Linked DNA regions of Homo sapiens. The gene in region 5 interacts genetically with the main gene of each other region. Each region holds a gene or a part of one and is shown on either strand. Other genes may lie near its edges. The genes, in order: HAPSTR1, EGFR, PTP4A3, FASN and ARNT.

The links.
Region 1: changes in ARNT (region 5) and HAPSTR1 together harm fitness less than expected from each alone (positive genetic interaction), as found in Homo sapiens cells (one large-scale study listed by BioGRID).
Region 2: changes in ARNT (region 5) and EGFR together harm fitness more than expected from each alone (negative genetic interaction), as found in Homo sapiens cells (one large-scale study listed by BioGRID).
Region 3: changes in ARNT (region 5) and PTP4A3 together harm fitness less than expected from each alone (positive genetic interaction), as found in Homo sapiens cells (one study listed by BioGRID).
Region 4: changes in ARNT (region 5) and FASN together harm fitness less than expected from each alone (positive genetic interaction), as found in Homo sapiens cells (one large-scale study listed by BioGRID).

What each region holds. Positions count from the first base shown.
Region 1 is NC_000016.10:9,105,123-9,108,646, reverse strand, and holds part of HAPSTR1 (HUWE1-associated protein modifying stress responses 1), read right to left. Parts: exon of another isoform or gene 1,883-3,524; intron 277-1,882; coding exon of another isoform or gene 143-276; exon of another isoform or gene 1-142. UniProt on the Homo sapiens protein: Acts as a central player within a network of stress response pathways promoting cellular adaptability. The E3 ligase HUWE1 assists HAPSTR1 in controlling stress signaling and in turn, HUWE1 feeds back to promote the degradation of HAPSTR1.
Region 2 is NC_000007.14:55,203,994-55,207,517, reverse strand, and holds part of EGFR (epidermal growth factor receptor isoform a precursor), read right to left. Parts: intron 2,263-3,524; coding exon 1,901-2,262; 3' UTR 1-1,900. UniProt on the Homo sapiens protein: Receptor tyrosine kinase binding ligands of the EGF family and activating several signaling cascades to convert extracellular cues into appropriate cellular responses.
Region 3 is NC_000008.11:141,395,021-141,398,520, reverse strand, and holds part of PTP4A3 (protein tyrosine phosphatase type IVA 3), read right to left. Parts: intron 1-3,500. UniProt on the Homo sapiens protein: Protein tyrosine phosphatase which stimulates progression from G1 into S phase during mitosis. Enhances cell proliferation, cell motility and invasive activity, and promotes cancer metastasis.
Region 4 is NC_000017.11:82,077,824-82,081,246, reverse strand, and holds the end of FASN (fatty acid synthase), read left to right. Parts: coding exon 1-83; intron 84-324; coding exon 325-555; intron 556-656; coding exon 657-877; intron 878-1,008; coding exon 1,009-1,107; intron 1,108-1,638; coding exon 1,639-1,890; intron 1,891-1,966; coding exon 1,967-2,104; 3' UTR 2,105-2,909; downstream 2,910-3,423. UniProt on the Homo sapiens protein: Fatty acid synthetase is a multifunctional enzyme that catalyzes the de novo biosynthesis of long-chain saturated fatty acids starting from acetyl-CoA and malonyl-CoA in the presence of NADPH.
Region 5 is NC_000001.11:150,828,076-150,831,599, forward strand, and holds part of ARNT (aryl hydrocarbon receptor nuclear translocator), read right to left. Parts: intron 1,906-3,524; coding exon 1,829-1,905; intron 1,153-1,828; coding exon 1,018-1,152; intron 1-1,017. UniProt on the Homo sapiens protein: Required for activity of the AHR. Upon ligand binding, AHR translocates into the nucleus, where it heterodimerizes with ARNT and induces transcription by binding to xenobiotic response elements (XRE).

The DNA.
Region 1 (3,524 bases), on a different chromosome or scaffold from region 5:
ATATAAAATTCACATCGTTTCTGATTAATTTTGAGAAGAAAAGCCTCAAGATCTTTCCCACCTCGACACCTAAGCCCTAGGTCTTAGTGGGGGCGACGTCGTAGACAGAAATCCCACATCTAAAAATGTGAGAGCATAGTGGTTAAGGGTATGCATTTTGAGGCCAGGCATCATGGCTCATGCCAGTATTCCCAACACTTCGGAAGGTCGAGGTTGGGGTATGGCTTGCACCCATGAGTTCGAGACCAGCCTGGACAACATGGCGAAACTCCAACTCTACAGAAAATAAAAAATCAAAAATAAATATATTGAAAATTAGAAATTTTTTTAATTAAAAAAAAATTTGCATTTTGGAGACAGGACTGGAGTATCTATTCTACCACTTACTAACCTGCTCCATATCTTAGCCAAGTAAGGCTTTCTTCATCAACAGTGTTAATAACCCAGGGTAGGTGTGAGGATTAAATGACAACCTCCTTAGTGTGATGCTTTTACAAAGTAAACACTGAAAGAGTAGGTTTAATGGTTATCACCCTAAGGTCCCATGGAAGTCTCAGTTGTTCTAATTCAAGATTACCATGTAGCACCCTAGGCAAACAGGTTACATTATTCCCTGATTGTAGCTATCTGGGGATTGTAATCCTCAACCCTTTCTAGAGGTTCTGGGTCCCCACTGTGTTGTATTCACTTAGCAGACCTCTGTGATAACCCCAGTGGTAAACTCAGACTACACCTATGTCAGGTTCTTTGCTATGTTCTGTTAAAGCCAAAAAAAAAAGGACCAAGACAAGGTCCCTGCTATGTGTCCCGAGGAGAATGGAACAGTCACAGAAACAAATCAAGCAGCAGAGCAAATGCACAGTTCAGGGAGGCTACAGAGATTGGGAGCCCTGAAGCAAGGCTGTGTCACAGAAGTGAGGTATGAACACGTAGGGGCTGGACTTGTCAAAGAGCATAGAGGTATTCAAGAGATAAACAGTATGGGTAGGATACCTAACCAATGGTTAAGACTGGATCATAAGGGTCTTGTAATACCATGCTGAATTTGGACTTCACTGTGTAGGCCCAGGGAAACTTTAAACCATGAAGTGACAAGACCAGAAAGATCACTCCAATGGTCTCATGAAAGATGGACTGGCAACAACAGCTCAGGACTGGAAAGTGAGAGCTGAAACATTAGGCCAAGAGCCCAGGCTCACCTCCTCCAGAGGGCCTGCCCTGAGCACCACACAGCCGGGCTGTGCTGTGAAACATCCCTTTCTGCTCTCAGAAGACCTTCCACATACCACATTCATGACGTGAATAGAAATTAACCAAATCCATATTTTGCCTCAACAGAAAAAGGAATCGCTCTATGTTTATGTATTTCCAGAGACAGCACCGAATCTGCCATATAGAGAATGTGCTGAATGGCTCAATGGCTCAATGAGTCATTCTGCTGTTGGGGCAGAAGAATGAGTCCAACCTGAAACTTCATCTGAGATAAATGCCTGTGGGACAATTTGGAGATGTACACCGGAGGACAGTGGGACATGCCATCTGGCAGTCAGGAGAGAAGGTCTAAACGAGAGGTCCAGATTTGGAAGTGAAGACATGGGAAACGTAATCTAGGGCAGTGACAGGGCCTGAGGACAGGTCAGGCAGGCCAATGTGGCAGAAGAGAAGCCAAGGTAAGGAGAAGCTCTAGAAAAGGGATGAACAGAGGACCAATGAGAATGGCAGGCAGAGATCCACAAAGTGATCCAGAAGATTTCTGGTCTCAAGTATGCTGTTTACATAAAAACGAGTTACCAGTTGTTGGTATTAATTCAACTCTTGGGAAATTTATAATAATGTTATTTTATAACATTATTATAGGATAACAAAGCAAGACAGAAATCAATTTAGCACATGCATGTTTATCTCTTTAATTCCTCTGTGAATCTAACATACAGATGACTAGGTCCCATAGGACACAGGAAAAAAAGCAACATGTTGCGAACAAGTGTCAAAATAAAGCACTGAATTAGTCTTTAAGCCTTGCTAACCACTAATTGAAGTAGCTTTGATAAAAACTATTTGAGGCCAGCACAGTGGCTCACACCTGCAATCCCACCACTTAGGGGCAAGCAGTGAGGCTAAGGCAGATCACTTGAGGTCAGGTGTTCAAGACCAGCTTCGCCAACATGATGAAACCCCATCTCTACTACAAATACAAAAATTAGCTGGGCGTGGTGGCAGGCGCCTACAATCCCAGCTACTCGGGAGACTGAGGCACGAGAATCATTTGAACCCAGGAGGCGGAAGTCGCAGTGAGCACTACACTCCAGCCTGGGCTATAGAGCGACACTCAGTCTCAAAAAAAAAAAAAAAAACCTATTTGATAACCATAAATTGATATGCCTTACTTTTTTTTCTTTAAATAGGGAGAGGGTTTCACCATGTTGGCCAGGGTGGTCTCAAACTCCTGACCTCAAGTGATCCACCCACCTTGGCCTCCCAAAGTGCCGGCATTATAGGTGTGAGCCACAGCACCCGGCCAATTGATATACTTTTGATTAAAGCTGTTTACATTAGTCTCTCCCACTAAACTGGGTTCCCAGGCTTACAAGGGCAATGACTGGGGATCTCATTCATTGTCATACTCTGTCTACACGAAATATTCAGCAGGTGTCAAGTCTGCCATTTTCCTTTAAATTAAGAACACAGTTATTTGGTTGGGCTGTATTTGATGGGGGTAGGGGTAAGGAAGGGGAAAAAAACTGAGGGAAAACTGTCCTCTCTTAAATACATAGGACATGAAGAGGAACTGAGTTTGCTTTCATTATAAACTCAAGCCTGCCTCAAAATACCAGATTCTTTTCCCATGTCCTTGTGCTTGCCAAACGCATGAATTTAGACTCACCCACAATGTAAAACTCCAAAACCTTCAATTTGGCCTAACTTAGAATTCATAAATTTGGCTAAGCAAATAATATGCAAGAGTGAATTGTGACATTGTATTTACCCTAACTATGGTGTTTCCAAATACATTTTAAAAGAGCACCTTAACAGTTTTCACTTCAGACAAATCAGATAATAAGGACACCCAGTTGAAGTCACTAATCTATGTTACTAGTTAATAATGGCCCTAGTACTAGAACCATTCAAATTACTTTCTTTAAATATTCAAATTAAACTACCATTCTCCTTAATACACTGATGTTCTCACAAACCAGTACAGCACAACTCAGTATAATTTATGTTTCTGTAGATTCTTTCAAGGGGCCCTATTACTTCACCACAACACTGTCTTAACCACATGAATTAGAGGTATGAACCCTAAGAGTAAGAATGCATTCAGTCTCCAATCTATACTGGATTAGTGCTACATTATAAATTTATTGAAGGTAAAGATCATTTTCTTCCTAGACAAAGCCTTATATTTAAGTTTTAAAGCCTCACAACTTAAACATGTGAAAATTATAAACAGTCCCTTCAACTGTATCATTGCTTAAAACTCCCAAAGTTCAGGAAAACAATAAATCACAGGTGGAACAGATTCA
Region 2 (3,524 bases), on a different chromosome or scaffold from region 5:
GCCTGGCTGATGGGTCCTGTCTGGCATTTGTCACGTTGTTTTAAGGTTAGCATCTATGAGTCCATTTCCTTTGCTAAATTGTGAATTTCTTAGAATCAGGGACTATGTTTTATTTATCTTTGTATCTTTCATACCCATACCAGGCTAGTATAGATGCTTAGGGGTATTTGAGAGCATAATAGAGTGGAAATGAATATAGTTTTATTTTCATTGAGACAAAAATCAAATACTTTCTTAACAATGCTGTAGGGGCTCTGACTGATCTGGGAGTCAAAAATTACTTTAAAAGCAAAAGGAACATTTTGTATGTGTGTGTGACTGAACATAACTGTAGGCTGAAAATATTTTCTGAACCATTTCTTCCTTGATAAATTGGATGGGGTGGATATTGACTAGGAGAGTTTAAAACACTGTTTACAAAGGACTGCTGTTAACCAGTCAGGTTACAGGGCACACACAGATTAGGAAAAAAGGTGGGCTCCTAACTAGCTGAATCTTCCAATCTTCCAATTGTAGAGAAATTATTTTAGGAAGGAACTTTTTTCCTTCTAAAACATCTGCAAATGTTGTGAAAGCATTATCAATTTCAAACCCTAGTTTCATATTTACTACCTGAATTCCACACTACTCATAATGCTACTGTCATTCGCACCTGTAAAATGCCCTGTTGTGGCCAGAGCTGTAAGTGCTTGAATAGATGACTCAAGGCAGAGACACTTTTTGTGTGACAAAGCGTAAGGAGGGGGTTTGGGGGCAGCTGACCTGGAGGGAACATATACTCTTTGAGTAAAAAGCTTTTGAAGTGAAGTAAAAGGAGAAAACTATCTTCCATAAGTAACACAAACTAATTTTGGGGGGTTGGGGTGATGGCTAAAGGAGATTTCAGAGCAGCTTCATTTTTGTAGTCTTCTGATCTATGCCCCAAAGGACCTGATGCATTTCATCTGAGCCTCAAATTAGGAGATACGTTTTTGCGAGAACAAAAGCGGTGCTATCCTTAGGTATTCCACATTCTCAGCTGTGGGCTATTGGTCCAAATGCTGATGAATCCAATGTGGGCTGGAATCCGAGTTATTATTTGATGTGTCATCCTCTCTTGCTGATTTCATGACAGCAAGACAGGGGCAGCATACTGAGTTTCAAAACAATGGAATGGAAGACAAACAAGTCAGTCTAACGCTCATGACTGGAAACCACTGGTCCATCAGTGGGGAGTAAGTACCGTGGGGACATTTTTACAAAAGTAAGTCTAAGGAAGAATTCCATCCCCTCCGTTTCTTCTTTGCCCAGGAAGGGACAGAGTGGCTTATCCTACTGTACCTGCCATGACTTGATACAGTACCGATCCGGCCTGCTGGGGCCATGAAGGCCTTCTTGGATCTTTAGTGTTTTGCAGTGGAAGCCTTGAAGCAGAACCACTGGAATCAAGCATCCTCTGGAAGACTTGTGGCTTGTGCTCCTTGCTCACAGTTGGGCCTGGATGAACTCAGGGTAGCAAGTGCTACCAGCAAGCTTCTTCCTTGTTGGAAGAGCCCATTGAAGTAAAAATCAATAGCGACAATGAAAAACTCCAAGATCCCCAATCAATAAAAATCCTCACATATACTTTTTTTTTTTTTCAAATATACCTCTTTGAAAGATAAATTTCTGCTCAAAGGGACAATATTCTTGCTGGATGCGTTTCTGTAAATGCTTCACAGTTTGAAGACAAAGGAATGCAACTTCCCAAAATGTGCCCGAGGTGGAAGTACTTCCTGGCTAGTCGGTGTAAACGTTGCAAAACCAGTCTGTGGGTCTAAGAGCTAATGCGGGCATGGCTGTTGGGATGGAGGACCTGCTGTGGCTTGGTCCTGGGTATCGAAAGAGTCTGGATTTTTAGGGCTCATACTATCCTCCGTGGTCATGCTCCAATAAATTCACTGCTTTGTGGCGCGACCCTTAGGTATTCTGCATTTTCAGCTGTGGAGCCCTTAAAGATGCCATTTGGCTTGGCTTCCTTGGGAAAGAAGTCCTGCTGGTAGTCAGGGTTGTCCAGGCTAATTTGGTGGCTGCCTTTCTGGGCCCAGTGGGCAGGGCTGTCGAATGTGCTGTTGACACAGGTGGGCTGGACAGTGTTGAGATACTCGGGGTTGCCCACTGCAGTGCTGTGGGGGTCCTGGTAGTGTGGGTCTCTGCTGGGCGCGGGGTTCAGAGGCTGATTGTGATAGACAGGATTCTGCACAGAGCCAGCGGGCCTTTTGGGAACGGACTGGTTTATGTATTCTGAAAGTGGAAAGAAATCAGAGGTGAAGTAATCAGCAAAGCACCATCCCATGCAGGATCCCTGGGTTCTGAACCCTGTGAATGTCCTCAACAAGGAGACTTATGACAGGGAGCAGGAGCCTCGGGAGGGCCCTCTTGCTGTTGCTGCAAAAGAAAGTGGGTTCTTTCCTGTCCTTCTCAAAGTAATGGACATATGTGTCTTTTGTAAATTTAAAGTTCTCAGAGGATAAACTGCCTTGAGGAGAGTGTGTGTATGTGTGTGTGTATGTGTATGCATGTATACATATATGTGTGATGTGTATGTGGTATGTGTGTCTGGTGTGTGTATATGTGTGTGTATGTGCACCGTGTGTGTGGTGTATGTGTGTGTGGTGTATATTTGTATGTGTGTGTGGTGTGTGCATGTGGGTGTGTGTGGTGTGTGTGTACGTGTGTGTATATGTGGTGTGTGTATACGTGTGTATGTATGGTGTGTGTGGTGTGTATGTGTCTATTGTGTATGTATGTGTGGTATGAGTTGTGTGTGTGTGGTGTGGGTGTGTATGTGGTGTGTCTATGTGTGTCTGTGGTGTGTGTGGTGTGTGTACGTGTGTGTGGTGTGTGTATGTGTATGTATGTGTGGTGTGTGTCTGTGGTGTGTGTGTGGTGTGTGTACGTGTGTGTATGTGTGGTGTGTGTGTGGTGTGTATGTGTGTGGTGTGTATGTGTGTGTGTATATATGCGTATGTGTGGGGTGTATATGTTTGTGTGTGTGTGGGGTTTTTGTGGTGTGTGTGTGGTGTGTGTATTTGTGTGTGTTGTGTGTATATGTGGTGTGTGTGTACATGTGTACATATGGTGTGTGGTGTGTATATGTCTATATGTTTATGCATGTGTGGTGTCTGTGTGGTGTTGGTGTGTATGTGTGCATACATATGTGTATGTGGTGTGTATGTGTGTGTGTGGCGTGTGTACATGTGTGGTGTGTGGATGTGTATGTATGTGTGGTGTGTGTGTGGTGTGTATGTGTGTGTGGTGTGTGTGTACGTTTGTGTATATGTGGTGTGTGTGTACATGTGTATGGTGTGTGTCGTGTGTGTCTGTGTGTATGTGTGTGTGTAGTTGGTGTGTGTAGTTGGTGTGTAAAGAGGTATATCATCTGCCTTAACTTGCATTTTTCTAATAGCTTATAATATTGATAATCTGTTTATATTATATTAGATAGCCAATAAACTATATATTAGATATTACACTAACATATATATAACTTACATATGTTATAT
Region 3 (3,500 bases), on a different chromosome or scaffold from region 5:
CCCTGCTCCACCTCACCACCTCACTCTAGAACATTCCCTGGTTCCTGCCACTCCATGCCCCAGGATGGGAGTCAGGGACTTGAACCCTAGTATGCTGAGTCTGGGGTGTTCCCAGACGCCCGTCTGCCCACATCAGCAACGCTGGCTCCTGCAGGGGTGCTGGAATCTCTGGGAGTTGGAGGCTGTGCCTCAAGCAGAACCAAGCAATCAGGGAGTGCTTCCCAACTTATAACCACTCAAATGGTCCAGCCTCTTATTGGCAAGTGCAGAGCAGAGACTCCAAGGGATGTTATGCCCACCTCTGAGGGTCACCTAGCAGGAGACCTGGGCCCCACTGGCCCACTCCACCCCTCATCCAGCAAATAAACCCTGAGCACTGGCTAGGCCAAGCCCTGGGCAGAAGGCACAGGGGCCCTCTTCTTGGCCATCCCAACACCACTGGGCCCTGACCACATCTTCCAGGGCCAAGGGCTCCAGCCTGGGCACCTCCAAGCAGGCCTCAGGCAGACGCCTCCCTCCCTGCTCCGCCTGCGCTGACTGTCCAGGGTCCTGCATCCAGGTCTCGGCCCGTCCAGGACTGAGCCACACACAGCGAGGCTCACACATGATAAAGGCAGGAGCCGGGCCGACCCTGGACAGAGAGCGGGCTAGTGGTGCCAAGCCCTCAGAACCAGGGGCAGCAGGAGGAGCAATGCCCAACTCAGGTCCAATTTCTGCAAAACATTTTGTTCAACTCCCTTCCAGCTCTGATGGGCAAAGATAACAGAATCTCTCTGAACTATCCAGAAAGATCACTGCCTTTTATGGACAAGAACACTGGTCCCAAAGAGGTCGAAACCAGGCTCCACAGCCACCGAGGCACTCAGGCCCCAAGGCAGGGTTCTCATGACCAATACCCGCCCCGCCACCTGCCTTGTGAGGGTCTGCAGGGGACGTGCACCCCACCTTCACCTCCTGACTCACTGGACTCCCAACTGAGGCCAGCGGGGAGCATGTGCCCAGCGTGGGGCAGCCAGGTGGCGGAGTTGTCATTGTTCTGTACTTGTGGTAGGAGCTGGGCATGGCAGAGGCCCTTCCCAGCAGGACTCCTGCCCTCTCCCACCCAACCCCAACCCAGGACAGGCCTTACAGGCAGAAGTTTCAGCCCACCCGGGGGCTCCATTCAGGTCACTGGGACCTCCTTCAGAGAGCCCCCCACTGCCTGGAGCCTGTGTGACCTCATGAAGTGACAGAGCATCAGCCTCTCATTGTACAATGGGCAGGCAGCCTGTCCTGTTGTCACAGGGACCCACCAGGATGAGGTTGGCACAGCCCTGCACACCCTGGCAGCCACCTTCCCCGAGCCCCGGCTTCCCTGCGTGTAACACAGCTCTCACTCCGGCTCCAGGAGCCGCTCTGGCCCTGAGGAGGTGGCTAGAGCCAAATTCAACACAGATCAACCTGTGTTCATCCCCCTAGCCCTCTGGGGTCTTCCAGCCTGGCTTCCTCCCTGGCCGGGAAAACAGCAAGGGAGGAGAGGCTGTGGGCTCCAGGCCCCCAGCCAGCCCGGCTACCCTCCCACAGGAGTACCTGGCTCAAGGGCAGGTCCCAGAGAGCACAGCCCAGGCTGTTTCCTTCCCTGGATCGTTCATCCACTGTGTCTGGAACCCCAGCGGGCTCAGTGCACTCAGGACCCGCACGTCAGCTTGTCGGCTCCACACATGCAGCCCCTCGGGTTATGCGTGGTCTTGTCCCACGTGAGAAGGGAACACTGAGACTCAGAAGGTGACATGACCAAGCTGGCGTGGCCAAGCTAGCCCTTCCCGAGGCCACCGTCTCCCCACCCTGTAGCCCCCATCCCCACCTCATCTCTTCCTGGCCAAATCATCAGCGGTGCCCTTTGTCCCCCGTGTGCCTGTGGTGCAGCTGCTCCACTTGGCGCCAGCTCCTCGGGGCAGGGCTCGGGACTGTCCTGTTCCCAGTGGGCCAGAGCAGGCACACAGTAGGTGCTCCAGGGCTGTGGGCTCGGTGAGAGAGGAATGCTGGACGGGCTGCCCGGGGCCAGATTCCATACCACCTGATGACCTGGAGCTGCTCACCCCACTGGCACCATCACCCAAATGACCAGCACCCTCCCCTGCCCATTTACTGACCTTTCCCCAAAAAGGAGGCATGGCCAGCGTTCAAATTCCTGCTCTCCTCCCAGCAGTGACCCTGGCACGTCACTTCTCCCCTAGGGTCCTTCCCTGGCTCTAGGGCAGGACGGTAATATGAACACTTACCCGCCAGAGGTCTCAATCCTCTAGGATGAAGGGAGTTAAAATGCATCAAGTTTTACGTATGAGTCCATCACGGTCCTGACCAATGGCACCCACAGCCCAGATAATGGGGCCGGTTCTGGCTGTACCGCAATCACCAGGCACTGCCAAGGAGCCCCACCTTCACATGGCACGGGGTTACAGTCACGGCAGGGGTGGGGGTTACACATCAGGTTAGGCCTGCTTCCTCTGAGCCAGTGGCAGGGTTGGCGGGGGCAGGTGGCCAGGACAGGGTGGGAGAGGGGAGGCAGCCCCATCTGTCCCCAGCCAGGGTGGCCCTTGGCAGGCAACAGCAATGACTGTGCTGCATTTCCACTCCTTCTAGAAGCATAAGCCCTGACATGAGGGCACCCCTACATCTGGGGAAGACACCAGGAGAGGAGCCGGGGGGCATGGGAGCACCCCTACATCCCGGGAAGATGCCAGGAGAGGAGCCAGGGGACATCCCCACTGGGTAGATGAACGGGGGCTGCAGGAGGGAGGGGTGGCCCACGCACCTACCCCGGGTAGATGAACGGGGGCTGCAGGAGGGAGGGGTGGCCCACGCACCTTCCCCAGGTAGATGAACGGGGGCTGCAGGAGGGAGGGGTGGCCCATGCACCTATCCTGGGTAGATGAACGGGGGCTGCAGGAGGGAGGGGTGGCCCACGCACCTAAGGGGAAGTGGGGGTGCACTGGGCAATGGCCCCCAGTTCCCCTCCAGGAGGAAGGTAAACCTGAGGGCCCACTCTCAGGACCCCAGCTGAGCCCTGAGCCATGTGGTCATCCCTGACCCTCAGTTCCGCTTCCAAACCAGGAGGCTGCCACTAAAGCAGCCCAAGACTGAGTGGCACGTGCCTGGCGGGAAGCGATGCCCCACCTAGGGGTCCTTAGGGCCACACCCTTGGCTGGGAGGAACAGCCTGTCCTTATTTTCTGAACTGTCTTTTGTACAACAGCCTTGGCGCAGCTCAAAGGATAAGTGAGGTTCTCAGGGTCCTGACCTGAGGCGCCCCAAGGAGGGGAGACACGCGCACACTCTCTGCCAGGTGAACGCCTACTGGGCCATCGGAACCCACAGCTCGTGCCCCACCCACACTGGCACGGGCTGTGTCCACGTAGCCCTGATCCCGCTCGGCTAAAGAGCGCAGCTCTCAGCTGCCGTAGGTAGCTGCCAGGACCCTCCACCCTCTGCTCAGGCTCCTGGGTGGAAGGAAGCACCCGT
Region 4 (3,423 bases), on a different chromosome or scaffold from region 5:
CCTGGTGCTGTCCGTGCGCGAGGTGCGGCAACTCACGCTCCGGAAACTGCAGGAGCTGTCCTCAAAGGCGGATGAGGCCAGCGGTGCGTGTGGGTGGCCAGGCGGGAGTGGGGTCCCCGGGCCTCCCCAGCCCTTCCTCCTTGTTGTCTGGACCGTGTCCCGGCAGGCATACCGCCCTTCGTCACGGGTGCCATTCTGAGCGTTCCCACCCCGACTCCCACCTGACGTAGCACCGTGGGGACCTGCGTGCGTGTCTGTGTGTCCTTGCGTGGGTGCCAGGGCTCTGCACCCAGACCAGCCTGGCATCTGCCCCTGTCTTCACAGAGCTGGCATGCCCCACGCCCAAGGAGGATGGTCTGGCCCAGCAGCAGACTCAGCTGAACCTGCGCTCCCTGCTGGTGAACCCGGAGGGCCCCACCCTGATGCGGCTCAACTCCGTGCAGAGCTCGGAGCGGCCCCTGTTCCTGGTGCACCCAATCGAGGGCTCCACCACCGTGTTCCACAGCCTGGCCTCCCGGCTCAGCATCCCCACCTATGGCCTGCAGTGCACCCGAGGTACTCCCGGGCCCTCCTCTGGAAGCGGTGGTCAGTGCTGGCCATCACGGGGCCCGTGGCTGCCGCCTGCACATGCTGAGTGCCCGGCACTGCCATTGCAGCTGCGCCCCTTGACAGCATCCACAGCCTGGCTGCCTACTACATCGACTGCATCAGGCAGGTGCAGCCCGAGGGCCCCTACCGCGTGGCCGGCTACTCCTACGGGGCCTGCGTGGCCTTTGAAATGTGCTCCCAGCTGCAGGCCCAGCAGAGCCCAGCCCCCACCCACAACAGCCTCTTCCTGTTCGACGGCTCGCCCACCTACGTACTGGCCTACACCCAGGTGAGAGCCAGGCTGGTCCTAGAGGCCTACGGCAAACGTCTGGGCTCCCCACCTGTGCCCTGGCTTTGGGGGACCGTCGCTTAGGAGGCCCCGCCCCTTCCATCTGCTCAGCAGTCCCTCCTTCCTCTCAGAGCTACCGGGCAAAGCTGACCCCAGGCTGTGAGGCTGAGGCTGAGACGGAGGCCATATGCTTCTTCGTGCAGCAGTTCACGGACATGGAGCACAACAGGGTGGGTCCTGGACACCCCTGAGGCCGCAGGACCCAGAGTACTGGGCAGGAACGGAAGGGGGAAGGGAAGGATGGGATGGGACGCGAAGAGCGTTAAAGGCCCCCCAACTTCACCCCTTTAATAGCCGATCCCGGCCGGATGCGGTTGCTCATGCCTGTAATCCCGGCACTTTGGGAGGCTAAGGCGGGCAGATTACCTGAGGTCGGGAGTTCGAGACCAGCCTGACCAACGTGGAGAAACCCCTTCTCTACTAAAAATACAAAAATTAGCCAGGCATGGTGGCACTCACCTATAGTCCCACCTACTCGGGAGGAGAATCGCTTGAACCGGGTAGGTGGAGGTTGCGGAGGGAGGAGAATCGCTTGAACCGGGTAGGTGGAGGTTGCGGTGAGCTGAGATCGCCCCACTCCATCTAGCCTGGGTAACAAAAATGAAACTCGTCTCAAAAAAAAAAAGCCCACCCGCAGTGTAGCACAGGGCAGGCCGGTGCTGTGGGTGCTGCCAGCACCTGCTCAGAGCCCGACCCCACAGGTGCTGGAGGCGCTGCTGCCGCTGAAGGGCCTAGAGGAGCGTGTGGCAGCCGCCGTGGACCTGATCATCAAGAGCCACCAGGGCCTGGACCGCCAGGAGCTGAGCTTTGCGGCCCGGTCCTTCTACTACAAGCTGCGTGCCGCTGAGCAGTACACACCCAAGGCCAAGTACCATGGCAACGTGATGCTACTGCGCGCCAAGACGGGTGGCGCCTACGGCGAGGACCTGGGCGCGGACTACAACCTCTCCCAGGTGCGCAAGGGGCCTGACGGGAACGGGGACAGGGACAGGAGTGGGGTGGGACGGCAGCTGATCGCATCCCCTGCAGGTATGCGACGGGAAAGTATCCGTCCACGTCATCGAGGGTGACCACCGCACGCTGCTGGAGGGCAGCGGCCTGGAGTCCATCATCAGCATCATCCACAGCTCCCTGGCTGAGCCACGCGTGAGCGTGCGGGAGGGCTAGGCCCGTGCCCCCGCCTGCCACCGGAGGTCACTCCACCATCCCCACCCCACCCCACCCCACCCCCGCCATGCAACGGGATTGAAGGGTCCTGCCGGTGGGACCCTGTCCGGCCCAGTGCCACTGCCCCCCGAGGCTGCTAGATGTAGGTGTTAGGCATGTCCCACCCACCCGCCGCCTCCCACGGCACCTCGGGGACACCAGAGCTGCCGACTTGGAGACTCCTGGTCTGTGAAGAGCCGGTGGTGCCCGTGCCCGCAGGAACTGGGCTGGGCCTCGTGCGCCCGTGGGGTCTGCGCTTGGTCTTTCTGTGCTTGGATTTGCATATTTATTGCATTGCTGGTAGAGACCCCCAGGCCTGTCCACCCTGCCAAGACTCCTCAGGCAGCGTGTGGGTCCCGCACTCTGCCCCCATTTCCCCGATGTCCCCTGCGGGCGCGGGCAGCCACCCAAGCCTGCTGGCTGCGGCCCCCTCTCGGCCAGGCATTGGCTCAGCCCGCTGAGTGGGGGGTCGTGGGCCAGTCCCCGAGGAGCTGGGCCCCTGCACAGGCACACAGGGCCCGGCCACACCCAGCGGCCCCCCGCACAGCCACCCGTGGGGTGCTGCCCTTATGCCCGGCGCCGGGCACCAACTCCATGTTTGGTGTTTGTCTGTGTTTGTTTTTCAAGAAATGATTCAAATTGCTGCTTGGATTTTGAAATTTACTGTAACTGTCAGTGTACACGTCTGGACCCCGTTTCATTTTTACACCAATTTGGTAAAAATGCTGCTCTCAGCCTCCCACAATTAAACCGCATGTGATCTCCACCACCGTCCTTTCTTCCCTCCTCCCTGACCTGGCAGCTGCAAGCTCTCCAGCTCCACCCCACCCAGTCACGGGGCCGTGAAGGGGATGCCCTCTGTCCTCTGGTCCCCAGTTCCCACACACCCCTAGGCCATGTCCCAGAGCCGGGGCTGGGCCGGGGAGTGAGGAAGGAGCCCGCGTGGCAGCCCCGGGCTTCCCGGGAAAGCGCTGGGACTGGCGGGGGGGGGGGTACCGAGGCTCTGGCCAAGAAACACCACCAGTGAGAAACGTGTAGGAGGTACAGACACTGGGAAGTTGGCTTCAGCTGAGGAGAGGCCCCTCGTGGAGAATAGTATTTGCTTGAAGTCAGTGGATTGCAGGCATTCGCCCTGCCAAAGATGCCGTCACAGCCTCACCAAGACGGTGTCAATAGCGCCACTGGCTGGCCAGGTTGACCCAGAAGACTTGGGTTTAGGCAAAGGAGTGGAGGCTGGGAGGGAGCAAGGGACAGGGAGCCCTGGGCACCTGGACCCCCGG
Region 5 (3,524 bases):
TCTCCATTTATGTCTGGTCTTTTCATTTTCTTAATAATATCCTTTAAAGAGGGCAAATTTTAATTACAATTAAATCCAATTTATAATTTTTTTTCTTCTGTGAATCATGCTTTTAGTGTAAGAAATCTTTTGCCTAACTCAAAATCACAAAGATTTTCTCCTAGGAGTTTATTTGTAACTTTAGCTCTTACACATTTAGGCCTCTAAGCTGATTTTTGTAAATTGTATGAGGTAAGATCTATGTGTTTTCATTTTTGGGTGTGGTTTTTTTTTTGTTTTTTTTTTTTTTTGCATACAGATATCCAATTGTTCCATTTGTTAGAAATATTTATTTTATCCATTGAATTGTCTTGTCACCTTTGCTGAAAATTAGTTGACAAGTATAAGAATAGACCTTATTCTGGTCTATTGATCTATATATCTATCCTTACACCAACACCACAGTGTCTTGGTAATAGCTTTATAGTTAGTGTTGAATCAGGTAGTGTAAATTCTCTTTGTTCTTTGTTTTCAAGACCTCTTTTTCACCAACCTCTTTCACATAGCCACAGCCAGAAGTCCTTCCGACCCACAACAGTTTTAAAAGTTTATATGATGCGTCAATTCAGAGATGGCTAACTGGTCTGTTGCATGAGTAAATTATAATAACTGGTGCTAAATCTGCATGTTTTATGGGCCATTATTCATTTAGGTAATTACATGAATTATCTAAATGTAGCTATACTGGTATAACTAATTAATATGAGTACCTTTGAATCATCTGTATTAATATCAACAACAAAAAATAAATACATATTTGTACCTGCTGCTCCCACCTGGTTTGACAAGCCATATTTCTCTACATGAGATGACAGTCCTAATAGGAAGCTGAAAATAATGTTAGGTACTAACAGAATATGATGATCTCTTTTTCTTAACTGAGGTTGATATGTTTTGGCTGTCTTAGGAACTACATGATTACATAATGTCAACATAGCCAAAGGAAAATGGAGGCCTAATGGAGCTCCAGCTCCTCACCTGTGGCTGGTAGCCAACAGTAGCCACACAGCGGTGATCCACAAAAGTGAAGATACCCTCAATGTTGTGTCGGGAGATGAACTCTGTTGGTTGACAAACATTACTCATGTCTGTACAGTTGGGAGAACTAGTTACCTGAGAGTGAAGAGATAAAAATGAGGTAAAATGATACCATTATTTACAGATGTATTTCCTATCTCCTCATGGTCTTTTGCATAGACATAAGATTCCCAGTTTTAGGACTTTCTAAACTTTCACATTTTATCCAAAAAGGAAAAAAAAATGACAATCACAATCAGACAAGGCATAAGGTCTAGCTCTGCTCCCATACATTTACACTTTACCAAGTTAGTAAAGTAAGAATAAAGTTTATTCAATCTAAAATCCACATACTGGCTATGCTGAACTCATTACTCAGGTTGATATGGTACAAGTAACCAAGAAACTTATCTATACTTATGAAAAAATCAAAATAATTCCACTTTTCTATTGTTAGTCAGGTAATGATACAATGAAAAGGATCTTTCTTCTTTTGTATAGGGGCAAAGGAAATTAACTGGAAATAGAAAATTAAGCATAGTAAAGCTAAAATTAAGACAAGGGGAAAAAGATCTCCCTCCTCTCATACTTTTCAACTTTACTTAAATCCAAGAATAGCAATGGTCACTATAAATGCCATATTCCTTCAAATTTTGAGAGTTTTATGGAATTCTTCATTTGTATTCAGAAAGTAAAAGAAAATTAACAGGAATGAGTCCTGAAGATCTGCTCTAATTGAACGGGAATATAGATGTGGAAAATTCATACTTGCCTGCAATCTGCCAATGGCCACTAGGCAAAACTTGCTTCCCTGGCCAGCCTCTGGGTCATCATCTGGGAGGGAAACACCTTCAGAAACGTGACGTTAAAAGGTTTAACGGGGACCTCCAACTCAAATGCCTTCAAAACTCAGACAAGTAAAGATTCAAAATAGACCTATTTATGGGCCAGGCACCGTGGCTGACGCCTGTAATCCCAACACTTTGGGAAGCCAAGGTGGGCGGATCACTTGAGGACCAGCCTGGCCGACACAGTGAAACCCCATCTCTACTAAAAATACAAAAATTAGCCAGGCATGGTGGCATGCACCTGTAATCCCAGCTACTTGGGAGGCTGAGGTGAGAGAATCACTTGAACCCAGGAGGCGGAGGATGCAGTGAGCCGAGATCGCACTACTGCACTCCAGCCTGGGCGACAGACAGAGTGAGACTCCCTCTCAAAAAAAAAACCAAAAAGCAAAACAAAACAAAATACATCTAGTTATGAAGAGGCTAAGCATAAAGCAATAGAGAATGATAAATAAGAATAAACAAGTATATAAAACTTACCATATATGCCAGTCATTGTTTTAAGTATTTACATATATATTAATTCCTACATTTTACCCATGTTAATTATAGTAAACTGGAAAATACAAGTCCTACCCAGAGTACTCTAAAAAACTATGCTGGCCAAATATGGCACATATGAAGACATCCATTCTATGACCATGTTATAGGCAGAAAATTTATGCTTTGCCTAATCTGTAACTTTTAAAGTTAGCAAGCAACCCAAAATGAAGTTATACCAACCATCAATAGTTATTCATGTCCCTTGGAAAAGAGAAAAACCAATGTTTTACACAGAAAGGGAAGAAGACTGCATTTCTCCCCTGTTTTTTGCATAGTTATACTCTTTTTATCCAGAAAAATAGTATTCCTTGATGCTACATAGAGGTATGAAAGATCACATACTTTAACTGTGTGGCTTATATAGTATATAGACTAAGTAGTTCAAATGTCATTACTACTTCAGTTAAATTTTTTTAAATTACATTAATTACTTTTATTGGGTTACCTGCCATATGCCAGGCACTGGGCTGGATGCTTTCCTTACATTAAATCTAATCCTCACAAAAACCCTATACAGGATGTACTAACTCTGAATTACAGATGAGAAAACTGAGCTTTATAAAGGTCAAGCAACTTACCCTAGGTGATGCCACTAATAAGTAACAATGACAGGAATCACATCCAGGTTTCTCCACATCCAAAGTTTAACCTTTTTCCAAAACACATCACCTTGCTTCTCTTTTCTCTTAGTTTCTGTCTCCCCAAAACCCCTACTTTCCAATAATACCCAGGCAGCAGGGAAGTAATAAAGTTGCTAAGATTTGGAAACTCTGACAAGCCAACTTAAAACTTTGATCCTGCAACCCAATCACCTTTCTCACATTCCTTGTTTGACCTCAAGTTCTGGTAAAGCTAATCTGCTCAAAGCTTGATTTAAAGTCTTTGCAGAGAATATCCTCTTGATAAGTTATTACAATAAAGGCATTTTCCCCTTTTCTCTCAAAGTCTTGTTCCTACTTTAGAAATCTTTCTCAAATTAACTGCATTCAATGTCTAAGTTTCTTTGCAACAAATGCTTAGAATACATATGTTCAGTATAAATTTGTTCACATAAAAACCACATTCTGTGACACAGCC